Linked DNA regions of Homo sapiens. The protein of the gene in region 1 interacts with the protein of each later gene in a pairwise test. Each region holds a gene or a part of one and is shown on either strand. Other genes may lie near its edges. The genes, in order: TNMD and CD33.

What was found.
Region 2: the proteins of TNMD (region 1) and CD33 interact in binary tests that used the Homo sapiens proteins (3 or more experiments, as listed by UniProt).

What each region holds. Positions count from the first base shown.
Region 1 is NC_000023.11:100,594,902-100,600,650, forward strand, and holds the end of TNMD (tenomodulin), read left to right. Parts: intron 1-2,602; coding exon 2,603-2,756; intron 2,757-4,114; coding exon 4,115-4,281; intron 4,282-4,606; coding exon 4,607-4,816; 3' UTR 4,817-4,984; downstream 4,985-5,749. UniProt on the Homo sapiens protein: May be an angiogenesis inhibitor.
Region 2 is NC_000019.10:51,234,937-51,240,672, forward strand, and holds the end of CD33 (myeloid cell surface antigen CD33 isoform 1 precursor), read left to right. Parts: intron 1-220; coding exon 221-317; intron 318-581; coding exon of another isoform or gene 582-658; coding exon 659-740; intron 741-886; coding exon of another isoform or gene 887-895; exon of another isoform or gene 896-1,030; intron 1,031-4,581; coding exon 4,582-4,752; 3' UTR 4,753-5,080; downstream 5,081-5,736. UniProt on the Homo sapiens protein: Sialic-acid-binding immunoglobulin-like lectin (Siglec) that plays a role in mediating cell-cell interactions and in maintaining immune cells in a resting state.

The DNA.
Region 1 (5,749 bases):
AAAAGCAAAGAAGGTGAACACTGCAATGGGATACAAATTCTCTGAAAACACCCTGCTAGACCAAAGTAAGGCAACCTAGGGTGCTGGTGAAATCACTGAATGGCCCTTTAAAACCTAATGGGAGATGGATGTTATTGCCTAAAATACAACGATCTGTAAGGCCCTTGAGGCTCTTTATTGTTCCCTGATATTTTGTCTATAATTACAGTATGGTTTTATTAGTGGGAGGAGAAGGGGGACCTCAGTTAAGGTCATATTGTGACAGCATATCCCCACTATAGCAAGAAAAAACAAACATTGGTTTGGTTTGGTTTAGTGCTTAGTTGCCAAATCTAAAGTGGAATTATGGCAATGGCAGAATGATCTTTCTTCTTCTTCTTCTTCTTCTTTGTATTTTTAGTAGAGACGGGGTTTCACCATAGCCAGGATGGTCTCAATCTCCTGACCTCATGATCCGCCCGCCTAGGCCTCTCAAAGTGCTGGGATTACAGGCATCAGCCACCGCGCCCAGCCATGGCAGAGTGATCTTTCTATAAACTATAAAAACCTCTTTCTTTCTTTCTTTCTTTCTTCTCTCTCTCCCTGTTCTTTTTCACTTTTCTCCCACCCAGCTCCCTCCATCTTGATTCTCACCAACCCATTTATCTTTTCCTTTACCTTTTTCTTTACCTTTTTCTTTATTTGGGGGCGGTGGGTGGGGAGGACTATTTTTCTTTCCCTTACCCAAGTCTTAGAGCTGTCATTGGCTCCCACTTTACTCTTTCATGCTACTGGTCTCCTCGGGGCCAGAGGAGTTACAGACCCTTGTTACTAGAATTTGCAAGAAAAAAAAGAACGTTCTCCCAAAGATGATGCTCTGCTCCCAAGGTCTACGGTAGTGACAAAGTTTGGAGACTTTTTTTAAAGTAAGCATAAGTTAGATGCATCTGAGGAATAGATCGACGTTCAGGATATTAGGAATGACTATAGAAGGCAAAGGTAAGATAAAAGGAAAATCAATAGGATTAAAAAGCTACTATACACAATAACATATGCTGATTACATACAGAAAATAATGTAAGCATTTGAGTAGGCCACTCAGCAATGAGAACCTGAAGTGATATAATAGGATTTATTTTTTTGAAAGATTAAGGCAAAGGAGGCGGGGCACGGTGGCTCACGCCTATAATCCCAGCCCTTTGGGAGGCCGAAGAGGGGGATCACTGGAGGTCAGGAGTTCGAGACCACTCTGGCCAACATGGTGAAAACCCATCTCTACTAAAACAAAACAAAACAAAACAAAATTAGCCGGGCATGGTGGCGTGTGCCTGTAATCCCAGCTACTGAAGAGGATGAGGTGGGAGGATCACTTGAACCCGGGAGGTGGAGGTTTCAGTAAGCCGAGTTTGCGCCACTGCACTCCAGCCTGGGTGACAGAGCGGGACTCAGTGTCAAAAAATAAATAAATAAACAAAAAATAAAGGCAAAGGCTCATAATGTCTCATTTTGGCCCTAATTTAGTCTTCAGTTAATTTCACCAAATATTTTAAATAACGCAAATTCATTTCATGATAGTAAGAACACTGTACCTTCAAGTAAATCTTGTTTTTTATATTCACGCCACAGATTTTTTTTTAATGAGACAAATTTGTGGTCCTGAATGACAAAAACCTTCTTCTGTAATTCCCTCCACACTGTATCCATGGCATGTGTATTTTAAACATGCAGAGCAGGTATATAAATAGCCCTGATTTTGCTAACAAAGCTAGTCAGCATACCAACCTCATTTTATACAATTCCTTTCAATGCATCTCAAGGTCGTTACAGACTCAAGGACAAAGGTGCTAAGACTTTAGAATTGTAAATGATTCCGGGAGAAATTAGTAAGAACTAGGTATACAACACAATTACCTCAATACTAGAAACTGAAGAGAAAGTGGCATCCTTCACAATATAAAAAAAGCTGCTTAAAGGAAAAACACTCTGTGAGATAAACTCTAAGCATTTACAATGAAAGGAATGCAATAGTAGGAAGGCCAGTGAAGTCATAAACTGGAGACTTGCCTTTAAAACATAAAAGGAAATCTTTTGTACTATAACTAGCTACCATCAACAGGCAAATCTTGTAAAACCAAAATATTAGATTACATTGTTATTGAATTGATCTCACCAGTTTGGATTATAGGAGTTTTGTCAGCTTCGGGTCAAATCCTGCTTGCCACCCAAGATGCAAACCTAAAATAAGGCAGGCTAATAAAATGTATTTATAAAAAAGAAAACAAATGTAAATCACTTAGGGTTCCAGAAGCTCAAGTTAAAACATACACAGACCCAGGGCACCCTGAAAATAACGAAGCCCCTTTCTGACTTTGAGTGAAATGGTAACAGAGAAGGCTCCTACTTTAGTAAGCAGTCTTGCTGTTAGACCCAGGAAGGAGGAAGGATCAGTTGTTAACTCCCCCAAGGGCACCCACTGAATGCAAGGCACAGAGCTAGTTCACCAGCAGCCCTAGGATTAAAATTGTTACACTCAAAATATATTGCTTTCCAGCATCCCATAATGTCTCACTTGTTCTACTAATTTCTCTGCCAATCCCTACCCTAAGCTACTTTCTTCTTTCAGAATGAAGAAATTACCACAACTTTCTTTGAACAGTCAGTGATTTGGGTCCCAGCAGAAAAGCCTATTGAAAACCGAGATTTTCTTAAAAATTCCAAAATTCTGGAGATTTGTGATAACGTGACCATGTATTGGATCAATCCCACTCTAATATCAGGTATGACATTCTTATCCTCATCCTCCTCCTATTTTCTAAGACAGTAACAGGTTAATGTTCCCAGCATTTAGAGGCTACATTTCTAGGAAAACAAATGATCGGTTTATATCTTCTTGGATGAGTCTATATATGCTGACTGCCAGTGAGGAGGGAATTTTTCACAGCCAAGTTATAAATCAGATAAATTAATGTTGACAGGCTTTTAAATATCCCAGCAAAGGTAACACCACCCTAATGTGACTAGTGATAGCAAAAAACTAATCTGTCTCTCTTTGCACATCTATATTCATTGCAGTCGGTATGCCAGACTATTGCTCAAACCACTGTGGGTCCAACCCAAGAATAGAGGAGAGAAGGGCAAAAACAATGCTCTGCTATCAAGAAGGATTCCCTATGTCAAATGGTGGCATTTTCCTTAGAAGATAGGACAATCACTGCAATACAAATTTCTTTGTTGCTGTTTTAGGAATTACTATAAAAATAGTTGAGGGCTTGATGTCCAGAGTAGAAGAGTCCAGCCCTCAACTTCCAGTCAGCCCATAGAGAAGGTAAAGGCCCCTGGATGTCTTAGTCTGTTTAGCTAACATGGAATTTGGCCTCCCTCATTCTGCACAGCATAGATTACTCTATTACCCAAGAGAGGTTATTCTCACCAATGTAAGCATCTGTGGGTACTCTTTAGAGATATTAAAAAGGTGACTAAATGCAGTGTGGTATCCTGGACTGGATGCTGGAACAGAAAAAAACATTAGTAGAAATACTAATGAAATCTGAATAAAGTCTGTAGTTTAGTTAATAACATTGTACCAATTCTAACTTCTGATTTTTGATCATTGTACCATGGTTATGTGAGGTAACATTAGGGGAAACCGGGTGAAGAATATGTGAACTCTGTACTATTTCTGCAACTCTTCCATAAATCTAAGATTATTTCTAAACAGAAAGTTTAAAAAAAATTTAAGACAAGAAACATAAGGGAAGTGGGAGGACAGAGGATGTCAAATCAATTCAGGCAACCAAGAAATATTTATTGAGCATCTACATGGGTAAAATCATCATTGTAGGAGATACAGAAGTCCCTTGTCCTCAGTTTTTAATTTAGTGTGCTATTAAGTCAAAGCAGTAAATGTTTGATGCCAAAGAAGCAAAGAAGTTTGTGTATGTAGAAATGATCAGGCTTGTTTTGGAAACTACTCTAAAATATCAGCTGAAGGAGCTTGGAAAAGTGGTCCATGCCTAAATGATGCCAGTTAGAAGACACAATGAAAATCTCTATCCCCAGCTGCTATTCTCCCAAGCACTTCTTTCAGGAACATTTGCAAAGCAGTTGCATCACAACTTTGCATTTATTATCTTAGTTTCTGAGTTACAAGACTTTGAGGAGGAGGGAGAAGATCTTCACTTTCCTGCCAACGAAAAAAAAGGGATTGAACAAAATGAACAGTGGGTGGTCCCTCAAGTGAAAGTAGAGAAGACCCGTCACGCCAGACAAGCAAGTGAGGAAGAACTTCCAATAAATGACTATGTGAGTTATGTTTATGTAAACTCTTGATAGAGGAGGAAAAAAGAGCCCTCACAAAACTTACTACCCCTCAGATCACAATCATTGGAAGGAGAACGATCATGGCTTTAACAAAAAAAAAAAAATGTTTAAGAAACTTGGAATCTCCAGGAGGCTCATTCAAAATCAATCTCGATCTCTGTAGATATATCTCCATGATCAGGCTAAGGAGCTTAATTTCTCACAAGCCCCCAACTCATACAGTCTTCTAGTTCTCCCCTGCTTGGTGAGAACTCTTGCTAGTGAACCTTCCTCTCCCACCCCCAACACTGGCTTCTTCTTCTTTCAGACTGAAAATGGAATAGAATTTGATCCCATGCTGGATGAGAGAGGTTATTGTTGTATTTACTGCCGTCGAGGCAACCGCTATTGCCGCCGCGTCTGTGAACCTTTACTAGGCTACTACCCATATCCATACTGCTACCAAGGAGGACGAGTCATCTGTCGTGTCATCATGCCTTGTAACTGGTGGGTGGCCCGCATGCTGGGGAGGGTCTAATAGGAGGTTTGAGCTCAAATGCTTAAACTGCTGGCAACATATAATAAATGCATGCTATTCAATGAATTTCTGCCTATGAGGCATCTGGCCCCTGGTAGCCAGCTCTCCAGAATTACTTGTAGGTAATTCCTCTCTTCATGTTCTAATAAACTTCTACATTATCACCAACAGCCTGATTGCTGCTGAACACACTGGGTAAGTGTTTGCTGAGAATATTCACAGCAACTGAAATGGAGCAGACCCGTCAAACATAGATGACTATGCTGAGGCTCAGAAAACAATGCCCCAAAATGAAAGCCTCAGAAGCAAAAGTTTTTCTCTGACCTTCTCCTACCTGCCAGTCTCTCAGTCCCATTCTCCCCCGAGGCTAGCCATAAAAGCTAGAATCCCTCTTCCTCAAGGCGTGTCATATAAATCAAAACCCCTTTTTTCCAAAGCCAGCCTTAAACCTAAAAATATCACTCTGATTTTTCCTCTGCTTTTCTGTGTAAAAGCTGGCCATAAGGAAATTATCTGACCTACCTTGTTTGACTGTAGGTCATAAGACTCCCTTTCCAGAGAGGATCCAACACAACAGGTTTGGAAGTAGAAAAGGGCAAAGCATAATGATACCTAAATATCATATTTTACTCTGCTGTATTAAGACAGTGGAAATAAGGAGCTGATGATAAAATGTCTCCATAACTGATGCATTAAAAACATATCCTTTTGTGCATAGCCCCAGTGTTTAATTATATGAAAGATATATTGTGAACTTCCTTAAGTATCAATTAAGCTGCTGGACAGGCAGTGAGTCATAGCAGGCCAACACTAAAATATTCCAAATGTGCAGACTCAGCAAAGGAGAAAGCTAAACTAGCAAAAAGGGTCTCAGGCTCTCCTCCTATAAACAGGAACTCAACTTAGGACAAATTCAACATTCCATAGCCTTCA
Region 2 (5,736 bases), on another chromosome or scaffold:
TTTTGTGCACCAGAGAGAGAGGGTGGGACAAGAGGTGTCAGGTGCACTGTGTACTTCATCTCATGGTCGTGGTCAATATTGATGTCTATGATGGGTGGGAAGATCTAGGAGCTAAACCCCATTTTGGAGGTGAAGTCACCCCTCTCTACATGCTGGAGAGGAGGATACACATACCTGTTTATCTAGATTAGAATTCACCCCAAATCTTTTTTGTCTGCAGGGAAACAAGAGACCAGAGCAGGAGTGGTTCATGGGGCCATTGGAGGAGCTGGTGTTACAGCCCTGCTCGCTCTTTGTCTCTGCCTCATCTTCTTCATGTGAGCATTTTCTCTGGGTCAGGCATGGGCCAGAGGTGAAGAGGATGGACCTGGTGTAGAAGGGTCCTGGAGGGGCTGTGAGGGCTGGAGAAAGGGCAGGGGGTGTGATGATGTACAGAATCCAGCCTGTGGCCACTGGGATAGGCGTGGGTCTATTCCAGGGCCCTGATCTCAGATGTCCAAGGAGTGGGAGGTAGAGGGAGACCTTGTGACTAAGTCTTGTTTGAGGGCTCCTGGATTAATCCCACCCTTTACCTGCCAAAGTCCCTCATTCCAGGCTCATAACAATGGCCCCACAGCCTGAGAAAACCAGGCTCAAAGACCCTGGTGTCTCCCATCAGAGTGAAGACCCACAGGAGGAAAGCAGCCAGGACAGCAGTGGGCAGGAATGACACCCACCCTACCACAGGGTCAGCCTCCCCGGTGAGTGATGGGGCATCCTGGCATCCAGTCTGTCCTGCAGACACCTCCTCCCAATGTGGCCCACCGTCATGCCCCATTCAGCATTTCCAGAACTGAGCTTATTGTCTTTCCTCCTGTTTAACAGTGTAGGTTTTAATATTTTTCAGGTACGTTGAGGCCAACAGATCAGGAGATGATGGCCATTGAAAAGATAGTTTCTTGGCCGGGCACAGTGTTTCACACCTGCAATCCCAGCACCTTTGGAGGCCAAGGCGGGCGGATCACGAGGTCAGGAGATTGAGACTATCCTGGCTAACATGGTGAAACCCCGTCTCTACTAAAAATACAAAAAATTAGCCAGATGTGGTGGCTGGCGCCTGTAGTCCCAGCTACTTGGGAGGCTGAGGCAGGAGAATGGTATGAACCCGGGAGGCAGAGCTTGTAGTGAGCCGACATAGCACCACTGCACTCCAGCCTGGGTGACAGAGAGAGACTCTGTCCCAAAAAGAAAAAAAAAATAGTTTCTTATTCACCGTTCCCGAGAGGGCACACCACACCATGCAAGGCCATATGGAGAAGCACCAGGGTCAGTCAGGAAGCAGAGGGAGCAAGGAGAAAATGGGACAAGAGCCTTCACTGTGGCTTTCATGGAAAAGAATGGGCAAGACAGGGTAAGCAAGCTAGGCAGGTTTAGGATTGGCTACTTAGAACAATTTCAGCAGACTCTGGGGTATAGGAGTTGTCTCTAGTTGTCTGGTACATGGCCCTGGGTTTATTAAGGAGGATTGTGGTCTGGAGTGTAAGAGCTCAATAAAGGATCCAGCTGGTAGTGTGGGCTTTAGATTGACTGGTTTGCACATGAAAGGTGCACTTGTATGCAAGTCCTTTATTAGCTCTAGAAATCTACTATCCTTGGGAAAGGCAGTCTCTCAAGGGTCAGTAATGCCCCAGATGTCAAAACATCAGAAACACTTGGTTGACACACCCCTAAACATACTTCTCCTGATGGGTTCTCCATCTCGCTGATGGCACTCTTGTCCCCATTACCCAACCAGAGACATGGCCCCCTCCTGTCCCAGTCCTCCATCTCTTCCTGTGCCAGTATGCTACGATGCATGTCTGAGCTTCCTCTGAACACGGCTTAACACAACCACTCCTGAGCCGAGAGCCCCTCTTACTCCTTATTCTGCTGCAGCCTCACCTCCCATTTCTCCTCTCCAGAACATTAGCATCACCTCCCTAAAAGGTCATTGTCCCATCATTCCCAAGTTTGAAATGCACTGCTTCTCTACACTCCTGAAAGATTGGCATTCCAACAACTTGGTCTGGCATTTGGAGCAGGAAAACCAGAGTCCCCTTCAGTGCTATGCTCCCCCAACATTAGCCACTCAATCACCTCAAGCAGGGCAAGCTTTCTCATCTCAGAATCATTGCTGGGCTGTCCCCTCCTCCTCATATGCCTAATAGCTACCTGCCCAACTCCAGTGCATCCTTCAAGCTCTGATTTTTTTTTTAATTTATTTAACTCTGACTAAAGTGAACACCACAGTAAAGTTTTTGAACACAGGGTCAACCAGCACCCATTCATTCTGAAATATCTATATAATCCCATTTGCCAATTGCTCTAGGTCCTTGTGCCATTCTGTATTTTTATAAACACACAGTTTACAAATATAAAATATTCCTCCTATCGGGGGCTTAACATTTATTGGGGAAAGGGATGAAAATAATGAACAAATAAGCAGTGCAAATATACATGAAATAGGCATGAAATAAGTGCTATGGCAGGAAATGAAATGGGAGAACGGATTGGACAGTCCTGGGGGCCAAAGAATGGCCTTTGGGCAAACACCTGCAGAAAGAAAGTGAGTACAGTATGAGCAGTAGAGAATCATCAAGGAAGCAGCAAGTACCATGGCTCTGAGGCCGGAACACATCTGATGTTTTAGAGAAACAAAGTAGGACAGTGTGGATAAGGCAGAGTTACGTGTTGGGGGTGGAGTGTGGACTGAACAATGGTAGGTAGGAAATGAGGTTGAAGAGACATAGGAGCTGCAAATATTGCAGGATCCTAAGTCCATCATAGTTATTGATGCGTTTAGAGCAGAAGAGTGACATGAACTGACACTCATTTTAGTGGGAGTCACTCTGGCTGCTCTGTGAGAAACTCTAGTATGTAGTATAGAAGAGAAGATACCAGAATAGAAGATACACAGATAATCAAGCCAAGAGATGACTGACTCAGACTTAGTCCCAAGTAAGAATAATGAATCTGATGTGGAGAAATTGGGTTCCGGATACATCTTGAAGGTGGAGTCAACAGTATTTGCAAGTGGAGTGATGGAGTGCATGCAAGGCATGAGCAAAGATAGCTCACGGGCTCTGCTCGATAAGTGTCTCAGATGTCATAGGTGGGTCCACAGATATCATAGATGTCATGGATGTCCAAGAAGACCCCATAGATGTCATAGATGTCTATAGATGCCAATGATGATGTTCATGTGGTTAACTCAGAATTCAAACTTAAAAAATCAAATTGCCAATGATTAAAATTGCCATCCTTGAAGGAGAAGTCTATTTTCAAGTGTATATCAAACATTATTTTGGTTACCGTAAGTTTGAGGTGCCTCTGAGACATCCATGTGGAGATGACAAGTAGCAGGCAAGTGTCTGGAGCTCAGAAGAGGGCTCCACGTGGGAGACACAGAGGTTGGGAGCTTCCCTATCAACATCCAATAATCGATGAATCTACAAAGAAGAGAAGGGGTCCACAGACACAGCCCTGGAACCCTCCAGCATTTAATGTTAGGGAGATGAGGTGTAAATGGTGAGAAAGCTGAGAATGAATAGGAGCCAATGACCAGGAAATTGCAGGCTGTAGTGTTGGTGGCCAAGGGAAGATGGGGCTTCATGGAGGAGAGGTTGGTCATTTGTTTCAAATGCTGGTAAGTCTGGTAAGATGGAATCTGAGAAATGGCTATTTGAATGTAGCTAAGTGGTATGACAGCAAAGCAGATCTGATTTTTCTGCTGGAGGAAGATCTCTTGACTAGAGAGAGTTCAAGAGAGAATGGGAGGAGAAGAGGCAGAAACTGTGAGTTGAAGGACTCTTTTGAGAAACACTGCCCCAAATCTAGAACCAAGAAATGGGCCTGCACCAGCAAATGGTTGTACCCTGTAGACTTGCCATTTCTCCAGCATCTGCTCCTGTGTCTCTTATGATACCATGTTCCCTGTTTGTGTAGGGCTTTGCACCACTTGAACTAACTGCATTCCCATAGCTTCCCCTACCACACCATGAGCTCCACAAGGAAAAGCCTGGGTTTTATTAGACCTCCATCATTCTACTCTCTCCTGTTCATCTGCACACTGTCACAATTTGCAATTACCAGTCTGTTTCTGTCTTCATCCCCTGCAGTACTGGAAATCACAGGGCCCCTGCTCTGCTCTGCTCCCTCCTGAGGATCCAGTGCCCAGCACATAGGAGGTCCCAGAGACCTGGGACCGAGTTCAGGGTCAACAGATGTGTGACTTTGGAAATTACCTAAGCTCTCTGAGACCTAGTTTCCTGGTCTGTAAAATGGATTAAAATAATAGATGCCAAAGATGATGTCAGTGTAGCTGCCCAGAATTTTTCCACATTAGTCTCTGTGAGTATTCAAGAGAATTGCGAATCAATCAATACGTGCTACATGTGTTAGATAATGAATAAGTAGAGCCTTAATTAATTAACATTTGATGAAAGAATGAAAGAGTGAATAAATGTTCTGTCAGAGTCAAATTTACTTCATTGACCCTCTTTGCCTTCTCCTGGTCCCCCTCCTCACTGCCCTGCTCTAACCCCCTTCTTTCCTCTCCATAAGAAACACCAGAAGAAGTCCAAGTTACATGGCCCCACTGAAACCTCAAGCTGTTCAGGTGCCGCCCCTACTGTGGAGATGGATGAGGAGCTGCATTATGCTTCCCTCAACTTTCATGGGATGAATCCTTCCAAGGACACCTCCACCGAATACTCAGAGGTCAGGACCCAGTGAGGAACCCACAAGAGCATCAGGCTCAGCTAGAAGATCCACATCCTCTACAGGTCGGGGACCAAAGGCTGATTCTTGGAGATTTAACACCCCACAGGCAATGGGTTTATAGACATTATGTGAGTTTCCTGCTATATTAACATCATCTTAGACTTTGCAAGCAGAGAGTCGTGGAATCAAATCTGTGCTCTTTCATTTGCTAAGTGTATGATGTCACACAAGCTCCTTAACCTTCCATGTCTCCATTTTCTTCTCTGTGAAGTAGGTATAAGAAGTCCTATCTCATAGGGATGCTGTGAGCATTAAATAAAGGTACACATGGAAAACACCAGTCCTGGTGCAGTGAGAGTTCGGTGCATACTGGTTCCTTCCCCCTTGAACAGAAGTCATTAGTGATATTTGATCTCTGGAACTATATCAGCAACATGTCCATCTCACTTGCTGCTCAAAACCCCACCATATATGTCTTCCCTGACTTACCCTCCAACATCATCTCTCTCCACTCCTGAATCTTCTCTTTTCATCTCACCTGTCCCCTACTCGGATTTCTGCTTTCTTTATGTCCTGCTACAGGGAAAATCACATATTAGCATTTGGGGAATTTTCTAAAACTCAGAGCTGACCATAGTGAAAATAGTTCCCTAGATCCCCAACCCACAGGAATAATTTGAAGCTTCTCAATGTGACATTCTAAGTCAGAGATGGTCAACCAGTATTAGCAAAGGGCCAGATAGTAAACATGTTCAGTTTTGCAAGCAATGTGGTCTCTATTGCAACTATTTAATTCCGCCATTGTAGCAACAAAGCAGCCACAGACAATCTGAAAATGAATTATATGGCCATGTTCCGACAAAATGCTATTTATCAGAACAGGCAGCCCACGGGCTGTGGTGTGCTGACCTCTATTCTATGTTGCTCTGAATCTCGCTCAGTCTACTCTTCCATTGCCACATCCTACACTCTATGGACCCCATTCTAATGCATTCC